Homo sapiens: one gene and its partners. The protein of the gene in region 2 purifies or fractionates together with the protein of the main gene of each other region. This does not show direct contact. Each region holds a gene or a part of one and is shown on either strand. Other genes may lie near its edges.

Region 1 (4,281 bases), on a different chromosome or scaffold from region 2:
GATAACAAACCAAGAAAAGCGAAACAGAGAATAACTAACATAAGTAAGGTTGAAGAAATTTCCTCATCCATCTTAACTGTTAGATAATATTGCTTTGTGGCCTAGGTATTATATTCAACTCTTCCTCTGACTCAATGGATTGGTTTGCTTATCCTAGGCAGAGAGGAGCCTCTGAAATGTTGATCACAGCAAAAGAGCTGTGAACATTAGGGCTTTTTTTTTTTTCCATTAAAACTTTTTCTGAATGTGTACAGGGAAGAATATGGGCATAGTAATCAGATAAACTTGGGTTTGAAACATAACTATTCCTTACCAGCTGATTGCAAGAGCTAACAACCTTCCCTATCTGGAAAAACAGAGCTAATACCCACCTTGAAGAATGAAAGTACTATTCAGCACTCTGATCAATATACTTTGAGGTTTTTATTCCTTTTCTTCTTATTTATAATCCGCTAGGGCCTAACAAGAAAAAACAGATTTGATTATTTTTAGAGTCTTAAACTACAGAAATCACTGCTGGCTTCCAATGAAACCTTCAAACAAAATGGAATGAAGCAAGTCTCACAAATAATAAAAATCAGCCGCTCTGACAGGGTTTGGATACCAAGGGGAATTTTAGCCAATAGGTATTAAATCAACATACACCTCCAGGATTCCTTTATAGAAGAGTATAACCGGTCATTTCTTTGCTTATGTGTAAGACTTCCAGAATGCTACGGGAAAATTAACTCTCTTTTCAATATATTAGGCTTTGAAGTCTAAATATAAAGGCAATCAGGGTCTATTTTCAGAGCGGAGAGGACTGTTTCTAGACATCCAGGAAGGATTAGTCCAAATGGGTGTAACCCCCTTGGAGGCCTTGTCCCCAGAGCATCCTCATCTCCTGGGTGCCAGGGGCTTAAGGAATCCCCCTCCCTCCTTTTTTTCTTTCTTCCTCTTCTCGGAGCTCCCACCCTCACCCCATTCGGCTGCTTCTTTTCCATCTTCGCTTCTTCCCATAAGCGGTCAAAATAGAAAACGGAAGTACCTATTTGTTGCTTAGTGTAGTGCTCAGAGACGTTTTTTTGGTTGTTGTTTAATTAAGAAAAATAAAATCCCCCTCTAGGTTCTTCATTTCGCAATGAGCCCAAACATCCGCTGGCTCATTAGGCCTCTTAACAAAAGAAAAATGCCCCCACTGAACTGTGGCTGACTAGTGTGCGGAGGCTGGGGTCGGCTGGAGGGGTTCTAAGTATCTATCATGCGGCAAGGACAGCTTCCCGGGCGAGGGGACCCGGGATCCCGGGAGGCGCGTGCAGCGCCGCCCCCTCACAGTAGGGAGGCGCGGGAGAGGCGGCGGTGCCTGCCCAGCCCGGGTATCCCGTCCCAGGAGCGCGAGGGAGCGGGCAGCGGCCGGAGGCGGCGGCGGCGGGGACGCGGCGCGGCTGCCGCAGGGGAGCGGCGGCGGCGGCGGCGGCGGCGGCGGGCGCGAGGGGCGGGGCGCACTCCGCAACTTCTGCCGCTGCCGCCCGGGCGCTCTCGGCGCAGCCGAGCTGCTGCTGCGAACTGTGGAGCTGCCAGCGGAGCCCAGCCCGAGCTCCCTCGACTCCGCGCGTCCCAGGCGTCCGTCGGGGGCCGAAGCGCCTCCCGCAGGGAGTCCCCGTGAGGCCGCGCTGCCGCGTTACCCGCAGCGGCCGGGGGTCCGGGGAGTGCGGGGCTCCGAGACAGAGCCAGGCGCCCCCCAGCGGTCGGCGCGGGCCCCATGGCTGGGCCGGGCGGAGCGGAACCGGTGAGGTGAAGCCCCGGGGCCGGCAGCCGGAGGCGCGTGGCCGGGGCGCCGGCTCCATGGGCAGCGGCACACGGCGGCGCGATGATGGACGTTAACAGCAGCGGCCGCCCGGACCTCTACGGGCACCTCCGCTCTTTCCTTCTGCCAGAAGTGGGGCGCGGGCTGCCCGACTTGAGCCCCGACGGTGGCGCCGACCCGGTCGCGGGCTCCTGGGCGCCGCACCTGCTGAGCGAGGTGACAGCCAGCCCGGCGCCCACCTGGGACGCGCCCCCGGACAATGCCTCCGGCTGTGGGGAACAGATCAACTACGGCAGAGTCGAGAAAGTTGTGATCGGCTCCATCCTGACGCTCATCACGCTGCTGACGATCGCGGGCAACTGCCTGGTGGTGATCTCCGTGTGCTTCGTCAAGAAGCTCCGCCAGCCCTCCAACTACCTGATCGTGTCCCTGGCGCTGGCCGACCTCTCGGTGGCTGTGGCGGTCATGCCCTTCGTCAGCGTCACCGACCTCATCGGGGGCAAGTGGATCTTTGGACACTTTTTCTGTAATGTCTTCATCGCCATGGACGTCATGTGCTGCACGGCCTCGATCATGACCCTGTGCGTGATCAGCATTGACAGGTAAGGGCCGGACCGCCCCGTCCCAGGCTCCGGCTGGGGACCGGCTGGCAGCTCAGCCCCGCGCGCTCGCCTTTCCTGGGAGGATCAAGCTAGACTTCAAGGCGGGATGAAGGGCTGCGCTTAAAACACCGCTCCCCCCAATCCACCCTACACCAACCAAACTTCGGTTACGGCATAGCCTATGTACATCTTTAAAAGAAAAACCGGAAATGTTCTGGTTTACTGTAGTGACGAATTTAAGACCAAAGTTAAGAGTATTTTAAGCCTTAGCATTTCCACCAGCGGGTCCCTTGCCTTGGTTTTTGGAAGGAAGGGATTTGGTGCTCCCTGACTTGATCAAGCCTTGCTGTGAGCCTTAAAGAGTCATTAAAAAATAATAATAATAAGTCGGAGAAAAGCCACCTTGCTTACCCCATTGTGGGAGCTACTCCCTAGGCCAGTAAAAGGACCTTGGATGGTTCTAGAATTGGGGTTTGTATGTCTTACACATTGCATCTTTATGATGGTCAGTTCGGAATCGCATTCTTGCTTGTGGAAGTCTGGTTTCAATGTTTGGTAATGCTGTCTGTATCTTGCGAGCTTGCTGACTGGAGCCTTCCTCCAGGTCTGAATGGCTGGTTCTAGCCTTTCATCATAGCCCTTGGGAACCTTCTCTTGAGAACTCCCCCACTGGAGTAATTGAAACAGAGGCTGACCATCTGTCAGGGATGCTAGGGGAAAAATTCCTGCCTTGGGTGTCATATTGAACTAGGAGACCCACAGGGTTTCTTCAGGCTGTAAGGTTACAGGCTTTTGAAATGGAGCTAGTCTTTGACCCTTGAAATATTATGCAGTTGACAACTTGAAGTATGGTCTCAATCCTCTTTGGCCTAAAACAACTCTATTTCACTTGAAACTGAAATATGAGACCTTAATATTCACACTCAGAATTTTGCCGGTGTTTCAAGACTAGTATCCTGTTGTGTTTAATGATACAGAGAAATGGTTGCTTATTTTCTTAGTGGATCTATAGAACCTTTATATGTGTAGATCTTTCAGCCTAGGGGAAATAATTGATGCCTCCACACTTAAAATGACAGTGCCTCAAAGGATGGTCTAGCATGAAACTGAGATTTTCCTTTTTTTCTTCTTGAAAACACTGCTGTTTGTGGTTTGCTGGTACTTAAAATGTTCTGCTGTATGTATTTTTTGCTTGACCAGGGTTTATAATTACTAAATAAAGGAAATAATAGAAAAGGGAATATTTTCAAGAAGAAAAACACATTGTAGCTCCATTTAGCTAACAATTTAGGTTATTTTTCTTTAAATTGATTCTACCATTTTATATATCATGGTAGAAGCTGCTGACAGCAAACAAGGAATTACTTAAGAGCAGAGCATGAACTGCATATGTGAGAATATTAGCACCAAATTTGGCAGCTGAAGTTCTGAATTACAGTAGTTAAGAATGACAAAACATATGTATTTACAGTCTGACTGTGGCAACTGGAATTAGGAGAGTGCACTCAATACACATAGTAAGTGTATACATGAATTATAAGCACAGAAATCTGACTGCTCAGCCAACCAAAACAGAGCATCCTGCATGAATGGAGTCCTTTTAAATGGAACTTAGTGTAATAAAACAAATAACGGTTTATGCTGCAAGTACTGTATTTATAACCATTTTTTAAAATTTCACAGTTGATAAATGATACATAAATAATACCTTGTGCTAATTTGTCTCCTAAGACAGCCAGTGTTTCTCCTCTTCTGGGCTACATTGAGGTTTGGCTGAGATCACCTTGTGATTCCTATACATGAGCTAAAGGCATTCTCCACTCAGCGTGCATGTGTGACTTAGCATCGGCAGGCATGTCCTGAATACTGAGAAGACATTAATCCTTCTTGGCA
Region 2 (3,500 bases):
ACTGCTGATTTTCTTTCCCTCGTTTTTGTAGGAGATGACCAGGATAGTGAAAAGTCAAAACCAGCAGGCTCAGATGGTGAGCGGCGGGGGGTAAAGAGACAGCGGGATGAGAAGGATGAACATGGCCGAGCTTACTATGAATTCCGAGAGGAGGCTTACCACAGCCGGTGAGGGAAACAGTCCCTTTCGTTGAAGGGAGTGTCTGCTCTGATTTTGGTATACCTGGTATTGACTGGAGAGACTGGAAGGAGGGTGGATTCAAAATGGAATAGGTTTTTATAGGCATGAGTTTTAGATTGCATCTACCATGGAAACTCCTATTGCCCTTTCTCATTTATTGGAAAAAGCTGTCTGCTGGGATTTGATATTCACTGACAGTTTAAAATGGACATAATGTCATACACACACACCCCTCAAAGAAGAGGGCTTTGTTTACATTGTGTTTCTTTTCTATCTTACATATATAGCTCAAAGTCTCCACTGCCTCCTGAAGAAGAGGCAAAAGATGAGGAGGAGGATCAAACTCTTGTGAACCTGGACACGTGTATGTATAAGGCAGACAGACTGTGGTTTTTAACTAATCTCCTAAAAGTGATTTTGGAGATTAAAACTTCATAGCCTATAAATTCTATGAGACTTTGTATCCACTACAACAACTGGTATACTTATGCTCTGTTGGCGGCTTACAAGTATTGGACATTGGAGTAAACTGATTGCTTCTTTCTTTACAGATACCTCGGATCTGCATTTTCAAGTGAGCAAAGACCGCTATGGAGGGCAGCCACTTTTCTCAGAGAAGTTCCCCACCCTTTGGTCTGGGGCAAGGAGTACTTACGGAGTGACAAAGGGAAAAGTCTGCTTTGAGGCAAAGGTAGCTCATTAAGACCATTCATTCATTCATTCATTTATTACTGGATGCTTACGGTTCTTAGAGGGGGAAAAGAAGATTATTATCTCTTTTTTTTTGAGATGGAGTTTCGCTCTTGTTACCCAGGCTGGAGTCCAGTGGCACCATCTCGGCTCACCACAGCCTCTGCCTCCTGGGTTGAAGCGATTCTCCTGCCTCAGCCTCCCGAGGAGCTGGGATTACAGGCATGCGCCACCACACCTGGCTAATTTTGTATTCTTAGTAGAGATGGGGTTTCTCCATGTTGGTCGGGCTGGTCTTGAACTCCCGACCTCAGGTGATCCGCCCGTCTTGGCCTCCCAAAGTGCTGGGATTACAGGCATGAGCTACCGCACCTGGCTGGGGAAGAAATATTTTTTTAAAAAGACCGTTCATTTATTCATTAAGCTACTACCTATGTATACTGGACTTCTGTCCAATCAGGCTTTTATTAGTGCAGGTAGGTAAAAGCACTGTGCTTTAACAAGAACCTTAGTTTCAGTAACCAAGAAATTGATCCCTGTGGCTTTAAGTTCAGTGATTGTTATTCTGATGTTGAGTTGAGGTAAATGTCGTTTTCAGTTTGTATAAAAATCTTGTCCTTCGAACTCAGAGTTTGCTACTCAGTTGGTCACAATATCTAATAGTTCCCTTTCTGACTTGGCCAGGTAACCCAGAATCTCCCAATGAAAGAAGGCTGCACAGAGGTCTCTCTCCTTCGAGTTGGGTGGTCTGTTGATTTTTCCCGTCCACAGCTTGGTAAAGTTATTTCTTTAAGTTCCTCATTAGTGTTTACTACCATATTGCTTACTCTATGGGAAGTCCGGTTGTAGGTAACTAATTTGTTGACTGTTCTAGGTGAAGATGAATTCTCTTACGGTTTCGATGGACGAGGACTCAAGGCAGAAAATGGACAATTTGAGGAATTTGGCCAGACTTTTGGGGAGAATGATGTTATTGGCTGCTTTGCTGTAAGTGCTCCTGAAAGTTGTGGGTTATAACAAGGAGCGGATAGAGGGCACTGGGAATTCACTTGTGCTTCCCATCAACTGCTGGCTTTTATGCATGTGATGTGTGTGGCTCGCTTAGTTACTTTGTGCAGCAGTCTGTGTGAAAAAAGAATAAATTGTAAAGTTTAATCAACCCAAAGCCTCGTCAGCCAATAAGTGCTCTTGTCCCTTGTCATTGTAGAATTTTGAGACTGAAGAAGTAGAACTTTCCTTCTCCAAGAATGGAGAAGACCTAGGTGTGGCATTCTGGATCAGCAAGGATTCCCTGGCAGACCGGGCCCTTCTACCCCATGTCCTCTGCAAAAATTGTGTTGTAGAATTAAACTTCGGTCAGAAGGAGGAGCCCTTCTTCCCACCACCAGAAGAGTTTGTGTTCATTCATGCTGTGCCTGTTGAGGAGCGTGTACGCACTGCAGTCCCTCCCAAGACCATAGAGGAATGTGAGGTATGCCAAACAGTATACGAACACTGAGGTTGTATGCTTTGCAGAGGTGGGTGCGTATGCTCTCCAGGGTCTCAGAGCGTTACCAAACAGGAATGGGAGGATGTTCTTAAATTGGTTTTGATAAACATGACCCTCATTTATTTTTCATTATATTTCTGGTTCTGTTTTTTGCAGGTGATTCTGATGGTGGGACTACCCGGATCTGGAAAGACCCAGTGGGCACTGAAATATGCAAAAGAAAACCCTGAGAAAAGATACAATGTCCTGGGAGCTGAGACTGTGCTCAATCAAATGAGGGTAAGTTGCTGTTGGGGATTTGTCGGATACAGTATTTGGAGACTCTTATAACCTATCTTTAATGGAGAATTAGTCTCAAGTGTCTGAGAACAAGGGTCCCAGAAATAGAGAAATGAGATTTTTCTCTATGCGTTTTAGGTGGATTGATTTTTTTTTTCTTTGCTGTGTTGTCAAATTTCTGAAAGCAGATGAGATCTGAAATACATCCAGGTTAAGACTAGATAGAAATGACTACTGCAGGAAATGGACAACATTCACAGCACTGAAGAATGGGAATAGAGTGATATCATAGATTCAGTATTTGAAGAGGTGACATTTACCAATAACTCTTGGGCTTTAACTTGCAATATAACTTGTGTTTTGTTTTTTTTTTTCACTTCCTCTCAAACTAATCAGATGAAGGGTCTCGAGGAGCCAGAGATGGACCCCAAAAGCCGAGACCTTTTAGTTCAGCAAGCCTCCCAGTGCCTTAGTAAGCTGGTCCAGATTGCTTCCCGGACAAAGAGGAACTTTATTCTTGATCAGGTATTAATCTGATAAAATTGCCTAGAGTCAAGGTGGGATGTGTATATAAAGAGAGACTGAATTAAGGAGCAGAGTCAGCTTACCTAATTATGACCATCTGGTTGTGTGTTATGGTTGCAATGTTTTTTGAACTCAGAGGTACCCCTAATTAGTGTTTTTACTTGAAAATATATGGACCCAGGCTATAAAACATGTAATAAAGACAATGGAAAGAGTTGGAACTCATTTGAATTCCTGGCTCCACCACATTCTGGTTTGTGATCTTGGATAAGTCCCTTATCCTTTCTGAACCTCAGTTTCCCTGATGAGCAAAACAGGATAATACCTGTCATGTAGT
Region 3 (3,500 bases), on a different chromosome or scaffold from region 2:
AGGAATTGAAAATTTGCACATTTAAATTAATCTCAGCAGAGACATAATAAAATGTTTGTAATATAGACTCAAGCAGAAAAAAAAAGCCTTGATAGTAATGCCCTACATAGATGCTTTACCTCGCAAACATCAACATATTTTAAAGTCTTTTCTGCTACCAAATAAAAAAATATATATATACAACCATTAGGCCTTATTAGTTATGCTAGTTTGAAGATTTGCATAATTGCCATAGTAAAGTTAGCTTGGATTGGCTTGCTGTTAACATTCCTAGATATCCTGGAACATTATGTTGTAAGGTAGTATGCATTCATTTTCCACACCTAAACCCTCTTTGCCACCCTCCCCTTCTCTACTTTTTTTTGGTCAGCTCGACTCTGCTCAACCTTCCTCTCTCTGTTTAGATATCACCTCCCTCTAGAAACCTTCTCTGACCTCCCACTCCCTACTAAGCCCAGTTCCTTGGATGCATTCTCCTATAGCCTCTGAAGCTCCCCCATCACAGCACTGCTTTTATTACTGGCTCTAGAGATGCTAAATTTGTCAATGTAGAGCTCATGTTTAATTCACCATTACATTCACAGTACCTAGTATACAATGAATATTTGTTGAAGAGAGGTAGGAAGGGAGGAAGGAATAAATGAACTCAAAAAAGATGGGGCTGGGATCACTTGTGATAAACAAGGAGGTACCTCAACTGCTTCATTCTTATTAAAGGTAAGGACTTCAGATTGATAAATTGTTATGTTGGCTTTTTTTCTGCACTTCACATTCACATCTTCCTTTCTCTCTATATTAGTAGGACAGCAGACTGCATAGAGATCTGAAAATAGATTAGAAGTAAAGGCAGTATTTGGACATCATCATTAGATATAACAAACGTATTAGAAATTCATATTGAAATCTTAGAGATTTAACAAGACCTACTCATTCAGGGAGACAATACCCACAAAAGAAGTAGGCACTCCTGAAGGCATCCTTACTTAATTGGAAAATAACTTCCCTCTTTGTAGTGTGTGAGTGTTTATGTTAGAGACAGAGACTAATTTCTAAGCAATGAGTTTCTTCCTAAACCAGCTAGACATCCTTAGAGAAAACATTAAAATCAGGATATTTCACTAGATAATTTCTGTTAATCTGATACAGCTTCACTTTCATCTAACTTATTGCAGTTAATTTTTTTTTTTTTTTAAGACAGAATCTTGCTCTGTTGCCCAGGCTGGAGTGCAGTGGTGTGATCTCGGCTCACTGCAGCCTCCGCCTCCCAGGTTCAAGCAATTCTCCTGCCTCAGCCTCCTGAGTAGCTGGGACTGCAGGTGTGCACTGCCACGCCCTGCTAATATTTTGTATTTTTAGTAGAGACGGGGTTTCACCATGTTGGCCAGGACGGTCTTGACCTCCTAACCTCATGATCCACCCATCTCAGCCTCCCACAGTGCTGGAATTACAGGCATGAGCCACCGCGCCCAGCCTGCAGTTAATTTTTATAACAATATTTACATGAAATGGTTCGTAATCAATACAGGCAATGCAATTTCTAATAGGCACTAAGCAATTGAATTTTTGATCTTTATAACATAGTAAGAGTGTATTAAAAGTTACATTATTTTTCCCAAGGTTAAAGATACTTAGATTAAGATATTTTGACTGTTCACATAATCAGAAAGAAACATTATGCTTCTCGGTTTTGTGGCCATTGCATATAGATGTATGCTGCAGTTAGTTAAGCAAATATGCTAAATAAGCATTTATATTTATTACTAATGTAGGAGTTTTTGTTCTTTGGGAAATTAGGACAGTCTGTAAGTAGGGAGAGGTAACTATTTTGGCAGTCATTTAAAATGATTGCATTCCTAGCAGTCAATGAAATTACAATACATATTTATCTTCAAAAATATATTTTGTTACCTTTAATGTGTTAGTTTATTTAGCAATATCGCAAATTGATTCACTTTTCAGTTACCATATTCACTTGGAGATTAGTGTATCAATGATGCCATAGAAAAGTCACTACTTTCCCCTTCTTTCACCAATCCACTATTCATTCTAATAATTATTATGCCAGAGACTGTCTAGTATTGCAAACCACTCAGAAGATGATGGCAGGAAAAGCTGTATTGCAAACCACTCAGAAGATGATGGCAGGAAAAGGTAAAATTTATTGAGGTCTTAGAGGGAGCTGAGAGCCTGCAATGCACTATGCCCTTGGTCCTCACAACAACCATTCAGAAGAGGAAAGATCATAAAGTCAGTCTCAGTCTTGGCTGCATTTAAGAATTCCCTGGGGAAGCTGGGCGTGGTGGCTCACGCCTGTAATCCCAGCACTTTGGGAGGCCGAGGCGGGTGGATCACAAGGTCATGAGATGGAGACCATCCTGGCTAACATGGTGAAACCCCATCTCTACTAAAAATACAAAAAATTAACCGGGCACGGTGGCGGGCACCTGTAGTCCCAGCTACTCAGGAGGCTAAGGCAGGAGAATGGCATGAACCCGGGAGGCAGAGCTTGCAGTGAGCTGGGATGGTGCCACTGCAACTCCAGCCTGGGCATCAGAGCGAGACTCCGTCTCAAAAAAATAAATAAATAAAATAAAATAAATAAATAATAAATTTTAAAAAAAGAATTTCCTGGGGAAATTTGCTTTTAAACTACTGAAATTCAGAGCCCATGTATGATTATTTAGATTTAATTGGTAGGGAACAAGTGGATGTTAGTATTTTTTAAAGCTCCAGAGATAAGAAAAATATCCAACTAGGACTGAGAATGACTGGTGTAAGACACTGGGTCAAAAGCAAAACCTGATACAGTCCTCCTCAGATTTGCATTTGGGAATCACCTGGGGATCTTAGTAAAATGCAACATCTGATTCAGCAAGTGGGGTCAGGCCCAGGAGGCTGAGTTTCTAGCAAGCACACAGATGAGACAGGGGCAGTTGGTTCATTTTCCATAGCAAGGATGTGCAATCACTTTTTTGTGTATATGGTCTTTCTCAGCCCTGTTACCTGCCAACCATGTTTTTTTTTTGTTTTCCTGGGCACTGTTCTTAGTCTTCTCATGTCCTGATCTCCTTTCAGGTAAAATGAGATTATGAACACACCTATCTGACAGGGTCGCGGGTTACATAAAATCATCTACCTAAGGTCTTTTGTAGAGTGCTTATCACATAGTACGTGTTCAAATGTTCTCGCTTATGTCTCCATGGTCCTTTCTTGAAAAAGTAACTTTAAAATCAAATGTTGATTCCAAGCCCATCCTATTCCAAAAGCCCTTTCTTCCCCCATTCTTCAAGGTGGCCCTCATGTTAAATATCTCCATTTCTTCTGTAAAGTGGCTCTTTGCCATATTACAGGCCGTTCAACTTGAGTAGAAGGTAAGAGTTCCCAGAGAAATACAGGAAGTGTGAAAGGTAGGAGCCACATTGGTATTTGGTGTGTAAAGGTGAGTGACTGGCTTTTTAAGCCTCTCCTGTGAAGCACAGCTATACTTCTGTTTGCAGGAG
Region 4 (3,500 bases), on a different chromosome or scaffold from region 2:
AACTGTTCAATGTTTAAGTTTTATAATATAGTTTCAAATAATGGTTTTTAAAACTATCCTTTACTAAAACTCTTCTCCCCACAAAGTTATTCTAAAAGTAGAACTTTGAGCCACCAAACCTCCCTTTCCTACTAATGAGTAAAAATATATTATAACGTATAGTAATTCAGAGCCTTGAGATTCCATATCTGTATTCTTAAAGTGACCTGGAAGTATACCTACTTTTGATTCAAAAAAGAAGCCCCAGTAAACAAGTAAGCAAGTTTTCTTCACTTCATAATAGGGCATTAACTGAATACCTAATATACAAAAAGCAAAAAAGGAGGTGGACCTTTAGAATAACACTTGGATTCATCTATATTTTAAGTTTTTAAACTCCTCAAAAGACAAAATAGATTTAAGAAATCAATTTCTTTAAATTTTTATATTTCATCATTTTGTTAAAAGTTTAAGAGGATTGCTTATAGTAAAAATAAAAGCAGTCATTATTTTTTTCTTAACAAATCTTCCTCTAACCAAATATCTCTGTATTTATGTCATAAAAGTTACTTAAATTATGACATAGTACTTTTAGTTACATACCCCCAAATTACCTTAAAGTTATTTTCCTTTGGTTTTCTCCTCATTATTATATTAAAAGTTTCATACACATCCTCTGCTCCATTTTGTATAGTATTGGTCATATCTTGTTGATACTGGTTTGGATCCAAAAACACTCTAAATGTCCTTGATTCTCCTCTAAGATTGGGTCTGGGTTCAGGTCCTGGACAATTTGAAAAAGTTTGTTAAATAAAATATGTATTTTTCAAATATCAAAATAAGTTAACAGTATTTCTTTTCTAGAAATGGTGAGTAAATGGTTCAGGCTTAACTCCAACCATTCTTCCCAAAGTAGAATGCCCTCCACTCACCCACTTCAAATTCTAAGATGCTGAAAGTATTTTCTTCTTTCTCTAAATTCTTACTATTTCCTTCCATAGCAGTCATGTAATGTTTACGATGCAACACCATGACTTGCAATAATTTGTACACACACTCAACTAAAATAGGAGTACTTAGAAGTCAAAGAACTTATCTTTACTTTTGTCACTCATAGCTCCCACTACTGCCTTACATATAGTAAGTATTCAATAAATATTTTCTAATTAAATATATGTATTTTAGAATTTAAGGCATAGTTTTCTATTCATTAATTCCTTAATTTGACAGAGGTTCATCACTTTTCTCATCCTTCCACATTCCATACCTAGTATAACCAGCATGAAAAGAAATTTCACATACACAGAAATGTAGGATACTAATGGTTGAAAGCCCAGAGCCTTTTCTTTCCTCTCTGACATATCTCCTCTTTTTTGGGGGGGGTGGGGGGAAGGGGGGGTCTTAGACCTCGAACTTTGGTTCCATTATGTGGCCTTATGCTTATTCCATCCATTTTCCATTCCCTTCTCCTATTTCCTCTCATTCTAGAGATAAATAACTTAATCATCAGCAGTTTAGCAATGATATAATCTCTAAACCACAGATAGCATAAACTGACTAAAGTTTCAAAAGAAGTACAACAACCAAATTGTAAAATAAGCACTAGACATGTATGCAGTTGTAATTTAATAATAAGTATTATAAAGGAAGTCAGGACAACAGAAGAAAGAATTTCAAAGGGATAATAAGTGATACACATAAGAAATCAAATAACTGACTAATTTTGTAAAGCAGTGTTTTTAAATGCGGTAAAGTTGGCATCTTATGCAGGATAATTCCTTCTTTTATTTCTGTTCAGATGTTTAGCATCCTTGGCTCACAGTTACCTAATGCCAAGAGCCTGCCATTCCTCACCTCTATCCCGGTCATTTGAAAACCTAAATATCACTATGCATTTTCAAACGCAGGACAGTATTGTTCCCAATTAAGAACCACCACTACAATGAATTAAAATAGTCAAATTTAAGAAGAAAAAATATATCATTGAACACAAAAAAGCTTGGACAACTGTAAGAGATATTTAGAGTGTTTCTTAAAAAAAATATGGTAAAGTATTACATATTTTAAAAAGCTTTGAATAAAGATGATTTCAAAAGATCCTGTCCCAGAGTTCGAGACCAGCCTGGCCAACATGGTGAAACTCTGTCTCTACTAAAAATACAAAAATTAGCCAGGCGCGGTGGCAGGCACCTGTAATCCCAGCTACTGGGGTGGCTGAGGCAGAATTGCTTGAACTTGGGAGGCAGAGGTTGCAGTGGGCCAAGATCGCGCCACTGCACTCCAGCCTGGTTGACAGAGCAAAACTCCGTCTTGGGGGGAAAAAAAGAAAAAGATCCTGTCCTTTCCAATATCTAACATAGAAGTTCTGAAACTGTCTGGGTGTGGTGGCGGCTCATGTCTGTAATCCCAGCACTTTGGGAGGCCGAGGCAAGTGGAGTGCTTGATCTCAGGAGTTTGAGACCAGCCTGGGCAACATGGGGAAACCCCATCTCTACAAAAATTAACCGGGCATGGTCGCACGTGCCTATGGTCCCAGCTACTAGCAGGGCTGAGGCTGGAGAATCGCATGAACCCAGGAGGCAGAGGTTGCAGTGAGCCGAGATTGTGCCACTGAACTCCAGCCTGTGTGACACAGTGAGAAACCATGTTACCTATATCTAAAACTGCACGGTAGGTACCCTACACATATTTGATACAAAATCCTTTGTGTCAATTTAGTAGGTAAAAGAACTAAAAAATATTACCTAAGAAGCAAAAAGGGAAAAAGGCAAAGAAATTTATCATTCTATACACATACTCTTTCAAAAATATAGGTCACCATACCATCTTCAATGACACGTCCTTTATCATCCAGCATGCCCTGAATTTCACAGCCTCTGACATAAACCAGGCCAACCTGCTCAATAAAAGGTCTCCTCCGGTCAAACTTAGTGCCATAAGGTTTTGTGGGACGTACGGTAATTAAAAAGCATACATCATGCTTACGAAGACCTGGTAAGATATAAAGACATTTTCATTTATTAGAATTTCATTGTTTTCAGTCTTTTGTAGGCAAATTCTTATTTGCCTCTCTACCTCTTATCTTTGGTAGAGAGATACCGTTGAGTGACCAATGATTATTATCGCATTGTAACACAATTATGGGCTTTTCTATAATCTTTAATACTCAATATTTCATAGCATTAATTGAAATGAAAACTTCTTTATATTAAAATTAGAAACATTCATGCCATGAATATATTACTGAATAAGCCCTCCAAGTCATGCTACAGCTCCAAAATTGGATGTTCGTCATCATTCTTATTTTTAACAATCTTAATAAGTAACCAAAAATATGGCTGGCATATAATCCATCTATAGCATATTTAGCAGGTTTTTAATATCAGTTTAAACTATCTATCAGTGTCATTCCAAAGACAGCCTAATTGTATTTCACTAAAACAGGTCAACTCAAGAATAATTAATCAAGGCAAAAAAGTATTGTTTACAGGTATGATCTTGAGAAAGATGGCTGAATATAT

What was found. The genes of interacting proteins can lie anywhere in the genome.
Region 1: the proteins of HNRNPUL2 (region 2) and HTR7 purify together in Homo sapiens (tandem affinity purification; one large-scale study listed by IntAct). This does not show direct contact.
Region 3: the proteins of HNRNPUL2 (region 2) and HCN1 purify together in Homo sapiens (co-immunoprecipitation; one large-scale study listed by IntAct). This does not show direct contact.
Region 4: the proteins of HNRNPUL2 (region 2) and AQR purify together in Homo sapiens (affinity purification with mass spectrometry; one large-scale study listed by BioGRID and IntAct). This does not show direct contact.

What each region holds. Positions count from the first base shown.
Region 1 is NC_000010.11:90,855,240-90,859,520, reverse strand, and holds the start of HTR7 (5-hydroxytryptamine receptor 7), read left to right. Parts: upstream 1-1,481; 5' UTR 1,482-1,849; coding exon 1,850-2,388; intron 2,389-4,281. UniProt on the Homo sapiens protein: G-protein coupled receptor for 5-hydroxytryptamine (serotonin), a biogenic hormone that functions as a neurotransmitter, a hormone and a mitogen.
Region 2 is NC_000011.10:62,720,958-62,724,457, reverse strand, and holds part of HNRNPUL2 (heterogeneous nuclear ribonucleoprotein U-like protein 2), read left to right. Parts: intron 1-31; coding exon 32-167; intron 168-467; coding exon 468-544; intron 545-731; coding exon 732-871; intron 872-1,554; coding exon 1,555-1,645; intron 1,646-1,744; coding exon 1,745-1,857; intron 1,858-2,077; coding exon 2,078-2,341; intron 2,342-2,515; coding exon 2,516-2,638; intron 2,639-3,034; coding exon 3,035-3,163; intron 3,164-3,500.
Region 3 is NC_000005.10:45,262,881-45,266,380, reverse strand, and holds part of HCN1 (potassium/sodium hyperpolarization-activated cyclic nucleotide-gated channel 1), read left to right. Parts: intron 1-3,500. UniProt on the Homo sapiens protein: Hyperpolarization-activated ion channel that are permeable to sodium and potassium ions. Displays lower selectivity for K(+) over Na(+) ions.
Region 4 is NC_000015.10:34,903,743-34,907,242, forward strand, and holds part of AQR (RNA helicase aquarius), read right to left. Parts: intron 2,971-3,500; coding exon 2,803-2,970; intron 764-2,802; coding exon 594-763; intron 1-593.